Homo sapiens: one gene and its partners. The protein of the gene in region 3 purifies or fractionates together with the protein of the main gene of each other region. This does not show direct contact. Each region holds a gene or a part of one and is shown on either strand. Other genes may lie near its edges.

Region 1 (7,089 bases), on a different chromosome or scaffold from region 3:
GCAGGCCTGGCAGAGCAGAGGTGGTGTCCCCGCCTTGGGGGCCTGTGCCCCTGGGAAGGTGCTGGCCCAAATGTCTCAGGCTTTCTGCAGCCCATCCCCAGCAGTTCAGGCCAGAGGCTCTTCCTGCAGGTGGCGGTGGCCTGATGGGCTCAGCAGGCATGCCTGGAGCTGCTGCCCTGAGCTCTGCTCAGGGAGTCTGTTTCTTCTTCCCCAAATTTCCACGGCCTCCCTGAGCTCTCAGATTTTGAGATATAGATATATACATATATATGTATATATTTCTTCACTTGCGGGCAGTTCCAAGGAACTGTTTGTTCCTGGACCTGTATAAAGGTCACTTTTGGGGGACACCCTCCAGCTGCCCCACTGCCAAGCTGGTGCACAGCCCTTCCCTTCCCCGTGCAGGCCTCCAGCCTACCCCTGCACTCCACAACTCTGGGTTTTCAAGGTTCCCTCTCCTAGGAGGACACTGGGGGCAGATGGGGACGAGGGGTCAACACCTGGAGGCAAGCAGGCCAGCTCCCTGCCCCTCACACCAGCTCGGGCAGCATCTCTGCAAAGGCAGTTCCCACCCTACCTGAGGAGGCATGGGCATCCCTGGCCCCAGTCCAACCAGAAGGACTGTAGGTCTAGACCTGGCCAGAGCAGAACAGAACCAGGGTTTGACAGGCCCTGGGGCCCTTTCCTCCTTTCAAAGTAGGCCTCCCAGGAGCAGCTTGTCAGCCACATCCTTGGCAGTCCCAGGAGAGGCAGAAAAGTCTGAGGGTGGGGAGGAGAGCCCACAGAGGGTGGCACTGCGTATTGCCCTGGGGGCTAATGCCAGGGCCTGCTTCCAGGTAAGTCAGGTGGCTCCAGGCCCTGGGACTGGACAGAATGGTCTGTGGCTGATGAGGAAGCAGGGGAAACTCTCCTGCCGTTGGCCAAGTCACCAGGGCCCAAAGCCAGGCAGCTGCCAATCCCACGGAATAAGAGATCTGTTCAGTTTTCTTAGGGAAAACTAAAAATCCAAGGAAACGGAACTCTACACCTCCCTGCTGCACCCAGAACCTAATACAGGGCTCCACCCCTCCCACTCCACAGTGATGCTCCAGTACCTGGGGCCTCTGACCTCCAGAGAAACCGCAGGGCGGCCCGAGACCAGCCCACCCGGCCCCTGTTCTCACGGCCCCTCTGAAGAGTATCTTTAAAAACAGATTTAATGTGTTAAAAAAAAATAGAATCAAGTGGTGTGCTTCGCCACTGAGATGATTGTGCTGTGGCTCCGGGGCCACATAGCACCAGGGCTCGATAGCAGACAGGAGTTTCGGCCCTCGTCCAGTGCATGTGACTGGTGCAGGGGCGGAGGCCCAGCCCCACGGGGGCCAGAGCAGGAACACAGCCACCTGTTCCAACAGGCGCTGTGCCTTGTATGCCCCGTACATGTGCCTGCCCTGAGAGGAGCATGGGCCAGGCCTCTCTTCCAGCTGTGCCCCCAGGGTGCCAGTGAGGCAGGGCGACCTCTCACCAACAGAGCTCCTCCAAGCCATGCTGGATTTGGATTCCTGGAACCCCCTGTACCCATGCGGTGGGCCACCCCAGGGGGAGGGGAGGAGAGATGGGAGACTGTGTGTATGTCCCCTCCCTCCAAGTGCAGCAGGAGAAAGGTCACTGGGCTGGCCTGGTCACACACCGTCATAGGGGCCTGCTGGGGTATGCCCGATGCCCCCCAGCCTCCGGGCCATGCTGATGAGTGAGCGCAACTGCACCAGCCTCAGTGGCCCCACCTCTCTGGGGTCCTGGTTCTCCAGCCACCGCAGAGCTGTTTCTAGCCCCCGCACGGCCTCCCCGGCAGTCGGCACTGAGGTCCCTCCATAGTCGGTGGCCTCCTCCTCGTCCTCTCCGCCCCCCATGGCAGAGGGCAGACTGGCTGGGGCCGGAGGCGCTGCAGGGGGCAGGGCTGGGCCCACCTCCTCCCTGCAGCCCTCGGGCGGACCCCCATCATCGTCCAGGTGCAGCCACTCCGCAACCTCCTCCGGAGCCAGGCACTTGTAGGCCAGAGCCGCCAGGTGGGTGAGGTCGCTGAGCACCCTGCTGTGCTCGGCGGCTTCCTCGGCCTGGGCCGGCTGCCCAGCACTGTCCTCGCCGGGCCGGGGCTCGAAGGCAGCCCGCAGGCCCAGCAGCCAGCAGCGCTCAATGCTGCCCGCCTGCACCAGGTCCCAGGAGAGGCCAGCCAGGTAGAGCATGTCCTTGAGCATGAAGCTGCGCATGAAGTCCAGCGGGGAGCCGCTGGCGCAGGACACAGCCAGTCGCAGCAGCTCGCGCTTGTACAGCTGTTTGAAGGCGGCCACCACGCCCTGCTCCAGCGGTGCGGGGATATGTGCCCGGCTGCTGCCTTTGGACAGGAACAGCACCCGCACAGCGCCATCCGGTGTCTGCAGCTCCTCCGGGGGACCGAGGGGCTCCGGCCTGCACCGCACGGGGGCATCCTCGCTGTCCAGGGCGGGCATACTGGCAGCTGGGCTTGGGCAGGGCGGGTGGGCCACCAGCAGCACGGCCTTCTGCTGCAGGCAGCTTCGGCGCAGGTAGCGTTTGACGCCTGGGACAAATTCCTCAAAGAACCAGCCCCGCAGCAGCGGGCGGCTGAGCCAGGCGTCGGGGCTGTAGCGGTAGGAGGCCGGGAACTTGTCCTGGTTGTGGTGGCGCAGGCTGGGCGGGTCCGGCAGCCGCCCGATGACCAGCGGCTTCAGCTTGTGGCTGCCGGTCAGGTTTGCGGCCAGCAGCACCGTTACGCGGTCGCCCCGCCAGCGCCGGCCACAGCCCCCCGCCCCGGGGTCCCCTGCGCCCGGGGGCGCAGCCTGCTCCGGAAGCAGCTTCCAGTAGAGGCCGGTGACGCTGGCGCTGTAAATCTGCTCGTCCCCGTAGCCGCCCTCGGCCGGGGGCGGCGGGGCCGGGGCGCGGTCGGGCAGGGGGCCGGCGCCGGAGGGCAGCGCGGGCTCCTCCTTGACGGGCGGGCCGGGCGCGGGGCTCGGGGCTGGGGGCCCGGCCTCGCCGTAGAAGCGCTGGCTGGAGATGCCGTGGCGCTTCTGCCAGCGCCAGAACCAGCCGTGGCTGGCCTTGAAGGTGCACTCGGGCCCGTAGATCTGGCGCGCGAAGGCCTCGGCCTGCGCCTGGATGAGCGGGCCAGACAGCGGCACCCCGTGCTGGCGCAGCGCCAGGAACCAGGCGTACACGGCGCGGTCGATCTCCTCCTCGTTGGCCAGCCGCATCTTCTTGCGCTGAGTGCCCACCTCACCGCCCAGCTGCTCCAGGAACCAGCGCAGCTTGGGCTCGTCCTTGAGCCAGCCGCGCAGCGTCCCGCCCGGCACGCCGAAGTCGCGGCACACACTGGCCTGCCGCTCGCCGCCCTTGACGCGCTCGATGGCCTGCAGCTTGTCCTTGATGGAGTAGGCCTTGCGGAAGGCCATCTTCACGGCCACGCGGGGCCGCGGCCCGGGCGCGGGGGGCGGCGGCCGTGCAGCGGGGACGGGGGCTGGGGCGGGCGCGGGGGGCCCGGGCAGGGGACGGCGGCCGCGGCGCGGTACCGGGCCGGCCGGGGGGCCCGCGGGGTACATGGCTGCGGCGGGGGGGACCCGGGCCGCGCGGGTCGCGGGAGCCACACGCCCAGCCGCTCGGGGCGGGGCACTCGGGGGCGGGGCCGCACGGGTCCCTCCCCTTTGTCCCGCAGCTTGGCGGGCGCACGCGCGCTGACCTAGCCCGGCCCGGCCCCGCCCCGCGCCTGCGCGCTGGCCGCCTCGTGCGTCACTCGGCGCTTGCCGGCTGCCGGACCCGCCCCCACCGGCGACACCACTGGCCGCGAAGCGCAGGGGGGGCGCGCGCGCTGCCGCCCGTTCCCAGCACTTGTGCAGACTCCTCCGGGGAAGAGCGGCCTCCGCGGTCATCTCCAACGGAATTCTGCCTTTGAAGTGTCGGGGCACGGCGCGTCGAGGGTCCTGGCGGCCAGGCGGGGCGTGTGCAAGGGTCGCGTCCCCCCCCCGGGCCCCCGGCCCGTGGCTCTTGGTAGAGCCCAGTGCTTCATTTCCCGTGCGCGGCCCGGGCGGCCCTCCCTTTCATCAGTCTTCCCGCGTCCGCCGATTCCTCCTCCTTGGTCGCCGCGTCCTTGGCTGGCGTGTGAGTACCGCGGCCCCCGCCGGAAGGAGTCGGGCGCGACAGAGACGCCCGAGGGGCCGGGAGGGCGGGCGGCCCGGGCTGCGCCAGAAGCTCGCGCCGTTAGGGACTGAGGCACAAGTGCGCCAGCGCGGGCTTAGGGGCCGTGGGCCAAGTGCGGCACTTGGGGCGAGCGCAGAGAGGCGGGGCGACGGAGGCCACGTGGCCGGCTTGGAGGGCGTCCGCGGGACGGGGGCGCCGGGAGCACTGTCTCACGGCGCATCCCGGTCGTGGAAGCCCCTCGGCCAGGCTGCTGGGGCCTAAGGCCTGTGTTTGCTGCCGTCTCCGTGGGAGACCAGACATCTGCCCCAGCTGTTTCTCTGGCCTGCAGACCTTCGTACACCACGTCTTTGTCAAGCACCAGTTACTGCACGCATCAGCTGAGCACGGAGGGGATAGGCACGGACGCAACACTTTTGGAACTTAGACGCTAGTGAGCACGGAAAGGAATAAGCCTGTACTGTGACTGGGTCAAAATTTCTGTCTCTTGATTTGGATAGGGTGGTCGGGCAGTCTCTGAAGGGGGCGGGGATGCTGTTGCTAAGAAGTAGTACTTTCAGAGGCTTTAAGTGGAAGGAAGAAGGCAAAGGGGGCGGAGTGGGTTGGGGACCTGATGAGACGTCAGGATTGGTTTCCAGAATGAAGGACCGCCTGGCAGCAGAAGAACTGTGTAGCTAAACTTGGGGTTGTCCCTGCCCGACAGGGCGGGGTGCTTCTTAAGTTGACACTGCCTGCGGCTCACCTCCCAGGGAGGCAGGCCAGGCCATCTCACCTGAGCAGCCTCCTTCTACAGCTCCGCCCACCCCGTCATCTGGACCCCATGAGCCTTAAGCAGCTGGCTCGCAGGCAGTTGGTTACTTCCGGAGCCCGTGTGTGCCCAGCCCCGTTCTGGGGGTGGGGGATGCAGCTGAGGGGCTGGGCAGGTGTGGAAGGAGCCCCCGAGCGTCCTCTGAGGAAGTAGACGCTCACCTTCGCCTTCTCACCACATGCCTCAGGCCCAGCCAGGCTCCTAGACCTGCCTCTGTAGAGGCTTTCTGGGCGCAGTGCCAATCCTGTGAGACAGCAGCATCTCCCCTGGGCTGCTGCAGGGTTCACACGCAGTCAGTGCTGGCAGAGTGAGCGCCCAGCCGACAGAGCCCCCGCTGCCTCCCGCCTCCTCTGGAGGACTAGGCCCTCTGGGCTTTGCTCCCGGGTTGCTGGGTGAGGCTGCAAGGTTTAGCACAGGTGGGCACACGTGCTTGATGATGGACAAAGAGTACCTGGGCTGTGCCGTGCACTGGCGTCAGCCTTCTGGGGGCTGAGGACAGGAAATGTGGCATTGAGGATTTGTGGGTCATCATCCTGTGCCAGTGTGTTAAGGTGACATCAGCGTGTTGGAAGCTGGTGGCAGTGAGTTATGCTAAGTGCTGGTGTAGGAGCCTGCCACAGGTCTCCAGCTCTCCCACCTCGCTGACAGCCAAGGGTGCCGTGTGAGGTGTGGCGTGGGTATTGTCTGGGGTTCCAGAAAGCCTGTGCCGTGCTGGAGTCACCCAGGAGGCACAGGGGCTGCGCCGGGCAGGCAGGTCGGCCAGAGCCCCTCAAGCAGGGCTGGCCATGGAGCTGGCCTGCAGTGGCATTTAAGAAAAGACGTGGTTGGGGCGGGGCTTGGCCTGGGGCAGGGTGGGTTGGGTAGCTACAGTGAGTGCTCTGAGATATGCAGGACAGGCTGGCGTTTCCCAGTGGGGCTGGAATATCCAGGGGTCAGACAGGAAAGTGGCTGAGTGGGAATGTGGAACTGTGGAGTTTTTTCTCTTAAAAAGACCAAAGGCGGCTGGGCGTGGTGGCTCATGCTGGTGATCCCAGCACTTTGGGAGGCCGAGGCAGGCAGATCATGAGGTCAGGATATCGAGACCATCCTGGCCAACATGGTGAAACCCCGTCTCTACTAAAAATACGAAAATTAGGCTGGGCGCATGGCTCATGTCTGTAATCCCAGCACTGTGGGAGGCCAAGGCAGGCAGATCACCTGAGGTCAGGAGTTCGAGACCAGCCTGGCAAACATGGTGAAACCCCATCTCTACTAAAAATATGAAAAAATAGCCAGGTGTGGTGGCACACGCCTGTAATCCCAGCTACTTGGGAGGCTGAGGTAGGAGAATTGCTTGGACCCGGGAGGTGGAAGTTGCAGTGAGCTGAGATCGTACCACTGCACTCCAGCCTGGTGACAGAGTGAGGCTCCGTCTCAAAAAAAACCCAAAAATTAGCTGGCCGTGGTTGCGCATGCCTGTAGTCCCAGCTACTTGGGAGGCTGAGGCAGGAGAATCGCTTGAACCGGGGAGTTGGAGGTTGCAGTGAGCCAAGATCGCGCCACTGCACTCCAGCCTGGGTGACAGAGTGAGACTCCGTCTCAAAAAAAGACCGAAGGCCTCACTCCACGCAGGAAGACATTGATCTGTCCTGTGGCTGCTCTGCCGTGCGGTGGTTTTGCCTAAAGACCCGCTTCCTCAGGGGCTCCAGCCTCTTTTAAGGGCTAGTCGTCGCGCCCTTTGGGCACTGAAGGTACTGAAAGTTCTATCAGGCAGTGCCAGTCCACAGACTCAGGCCAGCCAGGTGGGCCGGAGAGGGGTGCTGCTGGGAGGGGTGGGCGTGCACAGGCTGAGCCGGTGGCTGACCCCGTCCCCTGCCCACCTCCCTGACTTCTCCCTGTGGAGGGTGGACAATCTGGGAGCCTGTCTGTGTGTGCGACTGTGATGGGGTGGCGTGGAGGGCAGGGCCTGGGAGCCAGCTCCTCCCAGAAAGCTTCCGTTTGCCCAGATGTGTGGAGACCTCCAGGCCGTGCAGCACCTTGGTGGCCACAGCTCTCCAGGATGTCCTCACCTTCCTCAGGGCCCTGCCCTCCTGACCTGGAGTGTTCTGGGTAGGAGTCTG
Region 2 (4,807 bases), on a different chromosome or scaffold from region 3:
AGGTTTTAAGGCTCCTCAGATGAGGTCTCTTATGCATTTGGAAAGGAACCTGGGACCTAGGGTTAAAGGACAGATCCTCTGCTTTGCTACAGTGTAATCTTGGACAGGTCATTCTACTTGGTCTCATCTGTAAAGAGAGGGGAGGGTCAGGGTAACAGTTGATAACTCATGGGTTATAAGGATTGAGTGAAATTGGAATACTCATGGCAATATTTATGCTATGAACAATAGAACCAACTAAACATTCAGTTTAATATTCAATGTTTAGTAGATTTATGGCACAATCCTGCATTAGAAGATTGTTTGGCCATTAAAATGTTTGCAAAGAATTCTGTTTTTGAGGTAGGGTCTTGCTATGTTGCTTAGTCCGGTGTCCAACTCCTGATCTCAGGTGGTCCTTCTACCTCAGCCTCTTGAGTAGCTGGGACTGCTAGTGCAAAAAATTGTTTTGTTTTAGGCTGGGCGCGGTGGCTCACGCCTGTGATCCCAGCACTTTGGGAGGCTGAGGCGGGTGGATCACGAGGTCAGGAGATTGAAACCATCCTGGCTAACACGGTAAAAATACCGTCTCTACTAAAAATACAAAAAGTACAAAAAATTAGCCGGGGGCGGTAGCAGGCGCCTGTAGTCCCAGCTACTCAGGAGGCTGAGGCAGGAGAATGGCGTGAACCCAGGAGGCGGAGCTTGCAGTGAGCCGAGATTGCACCACTGCACTGCAGCCTGGGCAACAGAGCTAGACTCCGTCTCAAGGAAAAATAAAAAAAAAAGGATTGTTTTGTTTTTTTGACAGGGTCTTGCTCTTCTCCCAGGCTGGAGTGCAGTGGTGTGATCTCGGCTCACTGCAACCTCTGCCTCCCGGACTCAAGCAATTCTCTTGCCTCAGCCTTCTGAGTAGCTGGGATTACAGGCGTGAGCCATGGTGCCCAGCTCCCAGCTAATTTTTAAATTTTTTTGTAGAGACAGTGTCTCGCTATATTTCCCAGGCTGAAAGAATTCTTAACAGCATGGATAGGATGTCCAGTAACAACAAAGTATAAGCACAAAACTGCATATGTCATGGCTACATCTTTGAAAAATCAAAGGCTGTAGGAAAATACATAAAAGATTATCCTGGGCTGGGCACGGTGGCTCATGCCTGTAATCCCAGCACTTTGGGAGGCCGAGGCGGGCGGATCACGAGGTCAAGAGTTCAAGACCAGCCTGACCAACATAGTGAAACCTCGTCTCTACTAGAAATACAAAAATTAGCTGGGCGTAGTGGCACGTGCCTGTAATCCCACTACTTGGGAGGCTGAGGCAGGAGAATCGCTTGAACCCGGTAGGTAGAGGTTGCAGTGAGCCGAGATCGCACCACTGCATTCCAGCCTGGGTGACAGGGCGAGACTCCATCTCAAAAAAACAAAACAAAAAAAAGATTATCCTCTTGTTGGCATTATAGGTGATTTTCTTCAGTCAGCATATATATATATATGTGTATGTATATGCACACACACACATATATACACACACATGTTGTACCTGAGCGAGTTAGAGAAAACGCCACACTTTGAGACGAATTAAGAGTCCTTTATTAGCCGGCAACCAAGAGACGGCTAACGCTCAAAAATCTCTCGGCCCTGAGGAAGGGGCTTGACTAACTTTTATACCTTGGTTTAGGAAGGGGAGGGGAACTCAAATGCAATAATTTTACAGAGGTAAAAACATGCAAGAATCAAAAGAAGCAAAATGGTTACAGAGAGATAAACAATTTAAAAGACAAATGGTTACAAAAAGCAACCGTACCAGGTGCAGGGCTCTAAATCCTTCATTATAATTAGATATGGGGCTATGCGGGACACAACTCAAGGCTTTATGTTGTTATCACTTTGAGAAAAATCCTGGGAACTTCATACATTGTTTGTGCCAGTACCTTATCAGTTAATTGGGCTCCTTTGAAATGCTGAGGATCTGCTTAACACAGGTCAACTCCTTGTGGAAGGGGGTTGGGTGAGGAGCCCTTAGTGTCTTGTAAATTAAAGGGTCAATTGGAGTTTGTCCGGCTTTCCCAGCTAGAGAGAGAGTCTTATTTACATGAGAAGCAAGGCTAGGTGGTTAAAGAGACAAACAGGGAAGATTCAAAGTAGTGAGTTAGAGTAAAAACAAGGTTAGGCATTTAACACATGTATGCACACACACATATATGTGTTTTTTGGTTGTTTTTTTTTTTTTTGTTTTTTTTTTGTTTTTTTTTTGAGACGGAGTCTTGCTCTGTTGCCAGGCTGGAGTGCAATTTCGGCTCACTGCAGCCTCTGTCTCCTGGGTTCGAGCAAGTCTCCTGTCCCTGCCTCCCGAGTAGCTGGGACTACAGGCGTGTGCCACCAATTTTTTTTTTTTTTTTTTTTAGTAGAGATAGGTTTTCACCATGTTGGCCAGGATGGTCTTGATCTCTTGACCTCGTGATCCGCCCGCCTCGGCCTCCCAAAGTGTTGGGATTACAGGTGTGAGCCACCCTGCCTGTCCTTTTTTTTCCCCCCAGACAGGACTCTTCCTCTATCGCCCAGGCTGGAGTGCAGTGGCGCGATCTCTGCTCACTGCAACCTCTGCCTCTCGGGTTCAAGCTATTCTCCTGTCTCAGCCTGCCACCACGCCCAGCTAATTTTTGTATTTTTAGTAGAAACGGGGTTTCACCTTGTTGGTCAGGCTGGGCTTGAACTCCTGACCTGAGGTGATCCACCTGCCTTGGCCTCCCAAAGTGCTGGGATTACAGGCGTGAGCCACCGCATCTGGCCAGTGTATATGTTTATAACTGGAAAGAAAGAAAACAGAGCACCAATCGTGGAGGGAGTGACCTCTGCTATATTGATGCTGGCATTCTTGGCTCAGTATGCCAGATTGCTTTTAAGATAACCTGAACCTAAGGGCTTTCCAGCATCGGAAAACCTTGGAAAAGACTAAAGCTTGTTTATAGGCAGAGATGGACTAAAGGACATGGGTGTAAGATTTGGGGTGGAGGCCCTTTGAGAATGTTCACTGCTTACATTCCTGTTACAGCTTGTGTAACCTGAAGAGGCCTGTATGGTGGGGGGGAAGAGACTTGGGTGAGTCAGTGACTTAGTGTGGTTCATGGAAAACAGCCTGGGGAGGGCCTGAACAGGGAAAAAGAAGTCCTCACTCTGTCTCCACCTGGGGGCAGCAGTTAGCCATGCCCTTCCTGGGGCAGGTCTCAGAGTCCCACTTTGAGTTCCACCCTCCACATGCCTTGCATACTTATGCAGAGGAGTGTCCTAGGCCCCTGTTCAAACCCCTTGAGCTTACTTCCCTCATAAGGTCATACACATCTGCCAGCACAATGACCATTTCCTTTATATTAGTAAATTTTAAGTGAAAGCACCCTTCACTTCTCTTAGCCTGGCAACCTTCCTCCTTATTGATTGACCCCTGTGCTTTCTTCCTCTTAGTACCTTTGTGTTGGATGAATTTAAGCGCAAGTACTCCAATGAGGACACACTCTCTGTGGCACTGCCATATTTCTGGGAGCACTTTGATAAGGACGGCTGGTCCCTGTGGTACTCAGAGTATCGCTTCCCTGAAGAACTCACTCAGACCTTCATGAGCTGCAATCTCATCACTGGTAAGAGAGTGGGTCTGAGAAGGAAGGAGAACAAGGTGTAGCAAGTGCTGTGATTCCAAAGGCTGAATGTTCTCCCTTGCCGCTTCAGGAATGTTCCAGCGACTGGACAAGCTGAGGAAGAATGCCTTCGCCAGTGTCATCCTTTTTGGAACCAACAATAGCAGCTCCATTTCTGGAGTCTGGGTCTTCCGAGGCCAGGAGCTTGCCTTTCCGGTGAGGAAGGTGGAGGAGAGGAGTCTCTTTAGGGTGGGGCAGGGATATAAGAAGCACTGTGTTTTATTTCTGAGTTGATGGATGTTTAGGAGGGTTCAGGAATGCTTATAGGAAGGAGCAGTTCATGTTCACAGGAGACCTGGGGTCTGATGACATGTGTTTGAGCTGGAAGTAACACAGGTGTGGGGTGGTGTCTCATAACTTGACCACATGCTGGCTTTTTATCCCCAGCTGAGTCCAGATTGGCAGGTGGACTACGAGTCATACACATGGCGGAAACTGGATCCTGGCAGCGAGGAGACCCAGACGCTGGTTCGAGAGTACTTTTCCTGGGAGGGGGCCTTCCAGCATGTGGGCAAAGCCTTCAATCAGGGCAAGATCTTCAAGTGAACATCTCTTGCCATCACCTAGCTGCCTGCACCTGCCCTTCAGGGAGATGGGGGTCATTAAAGGAAACTGAACATTGAACCCTTTCCTGTCCTGCCTCCTTTGTGAGTGGTGGCGTCTTCAAGGGGAGTAGATATGTTGAAGCAGGGTACTTTCTGTGTTCGCAGTACCTCGATATGCAGGAGAGAAGACTTCAGAAGAACAGAAATAGAGGCCTGTGTTCACTTGTGATTTTAATTACCCTGCCTCCTACGGTGATGACTGTCTTCTAGCTGGGAAAGAGCGGAAGCAGTTGGGGCGGGTAGTGACATGGGGCTTTGTGACTACCTAATTCTTAGGGATCAGATTCCAGGCCTTTCCCAGTGAAGGGAGAGAATAGCTGCTAATAACAAGAGCTAACGTGTATAATTCACAGAGCGCAAAGGAACTTTACATTATTTCCTGTAACTGTCCTGTGAGGTAGGTAGCTGACAATATGCAAGGGTTGTAGTTTCTTTTTCTTTTTTTTTCTTTTTTTTTTTCAGACAAGGTCTGGCTCTGTTGCCCAGGCTGGAGTGTAGTGGTGCAGTCTCAGCTCAACCTCTGTCTCCCAGGCTC
Region 3 (7,079 bases):
GGAAGGGCGAGGAGTTGGAGGATAGGGGCTTCCCTGGGGCCTTCCATGCAACTCACTTTCTTTTTTTCCTAGAAATGGCAGAATCACTGGGGCAGGGTCCTGCGGGAGAGGAGGGAGAGGGGGGAGGTCAGCATGGGCAAGACCTCGGGCATCTAAAATACCCCATCTGAAACCTAGTATGGCCGTCCAAGAGGGTCCCCAGCTGGCTGAGTCTGAATTTCTGCACCTCTCTCTAGGCCCCGAGGCTCCTGCCCTCCCAAAGACAGCTGCTCAGCTCAAGAAAGAGGCAAAGAAACGGGAGAAGCTAGAGAAATTCCAACAGAAGCAGAAGATCCAACAGCAGCAGCCACCTCCAGGGGAGGTGAGGCGAGGGTGGAGCTGGAAGGAAAGTTGATGTGTGCGGTGATGGGTTGGCTGATGCCTGGGCCTATGTCTTCTCCCTCCCAAGCAGAAGAAACCAAAACCAGAGAAGAGGGAGAAACGGGATCCTGGGGTCATTACCTATGACCTCCCAACCCCACCCGGGGAAAAGAAAGGTACTAGGAGTGGGAAGGGGCTCACCCCTCAGCAGCCCCTTCTAAGTTTTCACCCTATCTTGCTCTATTCTTGCTCTCACCACTTTGTTTGGTGAGGAATTGCAGACCCCCTGCCCTGCCTCTAGGCCCCTCAAATGCCTGTCCTATGATGTGAGTGACGGAGATCCCGATCCCTCTCTGCCAGCACGTCTCCTTCCCAGAGTGCTCCCAGCCACGGCACTGAGCCCTCCCTTCCTCTCCCCCAGATGTCAGTGGCCCCATGCCCGACTCCTACAGCCCTCGGTATGTGGAGGCTGCCTGGTACCCTTGGTGGGAGCAGCAGGGCTTCTTCAAGCCAGAGTATGGGGTGAGTAGGCACTGCTGCCCAGGCCCAGAGTGGGTGGGGTGGGGAAGGGCAGGACTGAAGGATGTGTTGCCTGGGAGGGGCTGGGAGAGGTGACCTGAGGCCTTAAACATGTGCCATCCTTCTCCACCATCAGCGTCCTAATGTGTCAGCAGCAAATCCCCGAGGTGTCTTCATGATGTGCATCCCACCCCCCAATGTGACAGGCTCCCTGCACCTGGGCCATGCACTCACCAACGCCATCCAGGACTCCCTGACTCGATGGTGAGCTTCTATCTGCACCTTCCTCTGGTTCCCTCTGCCTAGTCTGGCTCTCTCCTTTTCCCTGACAGCCCCCCGAGCCTCTCTCCTTCTGGGTTGGTGCTCACTTCTGCCCCCAGTGGTGCTACACTTCTCTCTGTCATTCCAATCTGATCATTTAGCTTCCTCTCCTAGTCCAGTACTCCCATGCAACACCGCCACTTGCAGACTCTCTTCTATCCCTTCTTTCTTTATTTAATTTTAATTTAATTTAATTTAATTTTTTGTAAAGATGAGTTTTCACTTTGTTGCTCAGTCTGGTCTCCAACTCCTGGCTCAAGTGATTCTCCTGTCTCAGACTCCCAGAGTGCTGGGATTATAGGTGTGAGGCACCACACCCAGTCTCTCCCTTCTTTTTCTAGTAACAATAACATTATTTTGAATTTAATTAGGAACATATGAATATATATATTTTTTTTTGGGGGGACAGAGTCTTGTTCTGTTGCCCAGGCCGGAGTGCAGTGACGCCATCTCGGCTCATGGCAACCGCTGCCTCCTGGGTTCAAGTGATTCTCCTGCCTCAGCCTCCCAAGTAGCTGGGATTACAGGAATGCGCCACCACAACTGACCAAAATATATGAATATATTCTTGTAAGAAATTTAAAGTTTCAAATCTCCTTGACCATCCCCCTCCACACCTACTTCCTCCTAAGATTTAGCCATTGTTATCACTTTGATGTGTATCTTCCCAGATCTTTCCTATTTACTTACATATACACGTACCCATAGAAATTTATAGTTCTCCTTTTGGGTGAGTCTTTTCTATTTTTTAACATAAAGGGTTCATATTACACTTGTTATGATCTAGCTTTCTTCTTACACTTAATACTTTCTCTTGGAGATCTTTCCTTGTCCTTACACACATACCACACATACTGACTTCCTTCTTTTTAATTGTTCCATAATATCTCATAGTGTGGCTGTACCATAGTGAAGTCATTCTTTTTTTTTTTTTTTTTTTTTTTTTTTTTGAGACAGAGTTTCACTCTTTTTGCTCAGGCTGGAGTACAGTGGCATGATCTCGGCTCACCGCAACCTCCACCTCCTAGGTTCAAGCGATTCTCTTGCCTCAGCCTCCCAAGTAGCTGGCATTACAGGCACCTGCCACCGCGCCTGGCTAATTTTTGTATTTTTAGTAGAGATGGGGTTTCACCATGTTGGCCAGGCTGGTCTCAAACTCCTGACCTCAGGTGATCTGCCTGCCTCGGCCTCCCAAAGTGCTGGGATTACAGGCGTGAGCCACTGCTCCCGGCCTGGAGTCACTTTTTAATTAATGATTCATTCTGTTTTTTGTTTTTTGTTTTTTTTCTGTTGAAAACCTTACTCTAATGCACATCCCTGTATATCAAGTTTGTCCAACCTGCAGCCTGTGGGCCACATGCGGCCCAGGACGGCTTTGAATGCAGCCTAACACAAATTTGTAAACTTTGTTTAAACATTTAAGAATTTTTTTGCGATTTTTTTTTTTTAGCTCATCAGCTATCGTTAGTGTTAGTGTATTTTTTTAAATTTATTTTTATTATTTATTTATTTATTTATTTTTTGAGACGGGTCTTGCACTGTCACCCAGGCTGGAGTGCAGTGGCACAGTCTCGGCTCACTGCAAGCTCCAAACTCCGCCTCCCACGTTAACGCCATTCTCCTGCCTCAGCCTCCCAAGTAGCTAGGACTACAGGTGCCCACCACCACGCCCGGCTAATTTTTTTTTTGTATTTTTAGTAGAGACGGGGTTTCACCATGTTAGCCAGGATGGTCTCGATCTCCTGACCTCGTGATCCGCCCGCCTCGGACTCCCAAAGTGCTGGGATTACAGGCGTGAGCCACTGCTCCCAGCCAGTGTTAGTGTATTTTATCTGTGGCCCAAGACAATTCTTCCATGTGGCCCAGGGAAGCCAAAAGATTGGATACCCCTGCTCTATATGCTTGCTGAAGCATGTGTGGAAGGGTTTCGCTGGTGTAGCTATCAAGAAGTGAAACTGCTAGGTCGGCAGGGGCACACCTATATTAAGTACAAACGGAAGCTGCCAAGTTGCCCTGCAGAATGGCTTTGCTGATTGATACCTCCAGGAATTGCTGTGAGAGTGTTCATTTCCCCACCCTTGCTAAGCCTGAGCATTAGGGTTGCCTAATTAGTTTTGCCAATCTGATGGGCAAAAAAATACCTCTGTTGTTTTACTTTGTACCTTTCTGATTGCTATTGAAGTTGTGCCTATTTTCATGTTTTTTGGCCAGTCAGGTTTACCCATATGTGAATTGTCTGTATCTATCTTTTCCCCGTTTTTCTATTGATTCTTCGTTCTTTTTCTTTTTAATTTTTTTTTTGAGAATTCTTTACCTGTTCTGGGTATCAATTTTTTTGTTAAATATTGTAAATGTTTTTGTTGTATTATTGTGTGGTAGTTTTCCTGTTAATTGTAAATGTTTCTCCTGTTTTCTGTTACTATTTGTTTTCACTGTTAATATTTTAATTAGTGATAAATACAAAGTAATATTCTAGGTGACAAATCTTTTTAAAAAGTATTTTAAAATAACTTTACCATTTTTGGAAACCAGGGTTTATTATATTTAAATTTTGAGAATTTTTTCTGGTGTCTTATGTACTAAATTAATGTGGTCAAAAAATATTTACTGGGCCCAACTATGTGCCACCTCTGCTCTGAGCACTGGGAATATAATGTTTGATTGTGCATTTTGCAAGTAACTGAGAGCTAGGAAAACAGTTATATGTTTTATTTTTTTATTTTTATTATTATTATTATTATTTTGAGACAGAGTCTCTCTCTGTCGCCCAGGCTGGAGTGCGGTGGCGCAATCTTGGCTCACTGCAAGCTCTGCTTCCCAGGTTCACAGCATACTCCTGCCTCAGCCTCCTGAGTAGCTGGGACTACAGGCGCCCGCCACCACGCCTGGCTAATTTTTTGTATTTTTTTTAGTAGAGACAGGGTTTCACCCTGTCGGCCAGGATGGTCTCGATCTCTTGACCTCATGATCTGCTCACCTCGGCCTCCCAAAGTGCTGGGATTACAGGCGTGACCCACCGCGCCTGGCCTGTTTTTTTTTTTGTTTTTTTTGTTTTTTTGAGACAGAGTCTCTCTCGGTTTCCCAGGCTGGAGTGCAGTGATGCGCGCTTACTGCAACCTCTGCCTCCTGAGCTCAAGCGATTCTCCTGCCTCAGCCTTCTGAGTAGCTGGGATTACAGGCGCATGCCACCACACCTGGCTAATTTTTGTATTTTTAGTAGAGACGGGGTTTCACCATGTTGGTCAGGCTTGTTTCGAGCTCCTGACCTTGTGATCCTCCCGCTTCGGTCTCCCAAAGTGCTAGGATGACAGGCATGAGCCACTTCGTCCAGCCAACAGTTCTGTTAAATACACATAACATACAATGGCCAAGTTGTTTGCGTTTGTGTTTGCGTTTTTGTTTTTTCAATTTTTCAATTTTTTTTTTTTCTTTGGAAATGGGGTCTTGCTCTGTCACCCAGGCTGGAGTGCAGTGGCGCAGTCTCTGCTCACTGCAAGCTCCTCCTCCCAGGTTCACACCATTCTCCTGCCTCAGCCTCCTGAGTAGCTGGGACTATAGGAGCCCACCACCACGCCTGGCTAATTTTTTTTGTATTTTTAGTAGAGACGGGGTTTCACCGTGTTAGCCAAGATGGTCTCGATCTCCTGACCTCGTGATTCGCGTACCTCGGCGTCCCAAAGTGCTGGGATTATAGGCGTGAGCCACCACGCCCGGCCCTGTTTTTCAATTTTTTAATAAAATCAAGAGAGGGTCTCGCTATGTTGCCCAGGCTGGTCTTGAACTTCTGGGCTCAAGCAATCCTCCTGCCTCAGTCTCCCAAAGTGCTGGGACTACAGGCATGAACCACCATACCTGGCCTCCAAGTTTGTTTACATGAAAACAGAATGACTACTTTTTTTTTTTTAATTGAGACAGAGTCTCGCTCTGTCGCCCAGGCTGGAGTGCAGTGACGCGATCTCGTCTCACTGCAACCTCAACCACTTGGGTTCAAGCGATTCTTGTGTCTCAGTCTCCTGAGTAGCTGGGACTACAGGCACGCACCACCACGCCCAGCTAATTCTTTTGCATTTTTAGTAGACAGAGTTTTGCCATGTTGGCCAAGCTGGTCTTGAACTCCTAACCTGAAGTAAGCCGCCTGCCTCGGCCTCCCAAAGTGCTGGGATTACAGGTGTGAGCCACTGTGCCTGGCCACATACTTCTTATAAAACTCTTAAGGTAGCCACATTTTTTTTCCAGTGAACGTGGTTTAAATAAAATGTGAGACACTCCCATTACTTTAATGGAATAGAGTTATATCAACTTTTTATTTTTATTTATTTGTTTATTTATTTATTTTTGAGACAGAGTCTCTCTCACTGTGTTGGCCAGATTGGAGTGCATCGGCATGATCACAGCACAATCATAGCTTGGTGCAGCCTCAACCTCAGCCACCCAAGTAGCTGGGAACAAAGGTGCACGCCACCATGCCTGGCTTTTTTTTTTTTTTTTTTGCAGAGACTAGGTCTCACTATGTTGCCCAGGCTAGTCTGCAACTCCTGGGCTCAAGCAGTCCTCTCACCTTGGCCTCCCAAAGTGTTGGGGTTATAGGCTTGAGCCACTGTGCCTGGCTTGAATTCTTTAATCTATCTAAAGTTTCTTTTTGTGACTATTGGTAAGGGGGAGATTTTTTCCAAATAATTAGCTAGTTGTTTCAAACATTTTGAATAGTTTATCCTTATTTTACTGATAGGAAGTGCCAACTTTCACAAACACTAAATTTGCTTGTATCTGTTTCCAGGTACTATTTTGTTCCTGTTTAGTAACTTATTTTAACAATTAGAACTTTTGCTATCCTGTTTGGCAGGAGCCTCCTCTTCGTTCTTTTTTTTTTTTTTTTTTTTTTTTTTTGAGACAGAGTCTCACTCTGTCATCCGGGCTGGAGTGCAGTGGCACAATTTCAACTCACTGCAACCTCCCCCTCCCAGCTTCAAGCGATTCTCGTGCTTCAGCCTCCCAAGTAGCTGGGATTACAGGTATGCACCACCATCCTGGCTAATTTTTATATTTTTGGTAGAGACAGGGTCTTGCCATGTTGGTCAGGCTGGTCTCGAACTCCTGTCCTCAAGTGATCCACTCGCCTTGGCCTCCCAAAGTCCTGGGGTTACAGGTGTGAGCCACCACGCATGCCTGTCTTTGTTCTTTTTCCATATTGCCTTGGCTCTTCCTTCAAATCTTTTCTCCTTGACTAGCTTTAGAATCACAAGGGTTCCAGCTCCACCCCTGCTTCTTTCTTTTTTTTTTTGTTTGTTTTTTGGAGACGGAGTCTCACTCTGTCACCCAGGCTGGAGTGCAATGGCATGATCCCAGCTTGCTGCAACCTCTGCTTCCCGGGTTCAAGCAATTCTCCTGCCTCAGCCTTCCAAGTAGCTGGGATTACAGGCACATGCCACCACGCCCAGCTAATTTTGTATTTTTAATACAGACAGGGTTTTACCATATTGGCCAGGCTTATCTTGAAGTCCCCACCTCAGGTGATCCACCCACCTCGGCTTCCCAAAGTGCTGGGATTACAGGCGCATGCCACCATGCCCAGCTAATTTTGTATTTTTAGTAGAGACGGGGTTTTACCATGTTGGCCAGGCTCATCTCGAACTCCCCCACCTGAGGTGATCCACCCACCTCAGCCTCCCAAAGTTCTGGGATTACAGGCGTGAGCCACCGCGTCCGGCCTCCCTGCTTCTTTATTTAGTCCACTGACTCCTTGCCTGAAGCCTCTGCTTTCTTTGGTGCCAGGCCCCACTGGCCTGGCTCACCCTCTGGTCCTCCATGCCCCCTAACAGGCACCGCATGCGTGGGGAGACCACCCTGTGGAACCCTGGCTGTGACCATGCAGGTATTGC

What was found.
Region 1: the proteins of VARS1 (region 3) and EEF1D purify together in Homo sapiens (affinity purification with mass spectrometry; 6 studies listed by BioGRID and IntAct, with this or other methods). This does not show direct contact.
Region 2: the proteins of VARS1 (region 3) and EEF1G purify together in Homo sapiens (affinity purification with mass spectrometry; 8 studies listed by BioGRID and IntAct, with this or other methods). This does not show direct contact.

The regions. Positions count from the first base shown.
Region 1 is NC_000008.11:143,594,405-143,601,493, reverse strand, and holds the start of EEF1D (elongation factor 1-delta), read left to right. Parts: upstream 1-4,078; 5' UTR 4,079-4,146; exon of another isoform or gene 4,147-7,089. Other genes in the region: TIGD5 (tigger transposable element-derived protein 5), read right to left, coding at 1,662-3,590.
Region 2 is NC_000011.10:62,559,085-62,563,891, reverse strand, and holds the end of EEF1G (elongation factor 1-gamma), read left to right. Parts: intron 1-3,437; coding exon 3,438-3,610; intron 3,611-3,698; coding exon 3,699-3,823; intron 3,824-4,054; coding exon 4,055-4,213; 3' UTR 4,214-4,296; downstream 4,297-4,807. UniProt on the Homo sapiens protein: Probably plays a role in anchoring the complex to other cellular components.
Region 3 is NC_000006.12:31,785,674-31,792,752, reverse strand, and holds part of VARS1 (valine--tRNA ligase), read left to right. Parts: intron 1-236; coding exon 237-361; intron 362-448; coding exon of another isoform or gene 449-451; coding exon 452-536; intron 537-781; coding exon 782-882; intron 883-1,015; coding exon 1,016-1,143; intron 1,144-7,019; coding exon 7,020-7,079. UniProt on the Homo sapiens protein: Catalyzes the attachment of valine to tRNA(Val).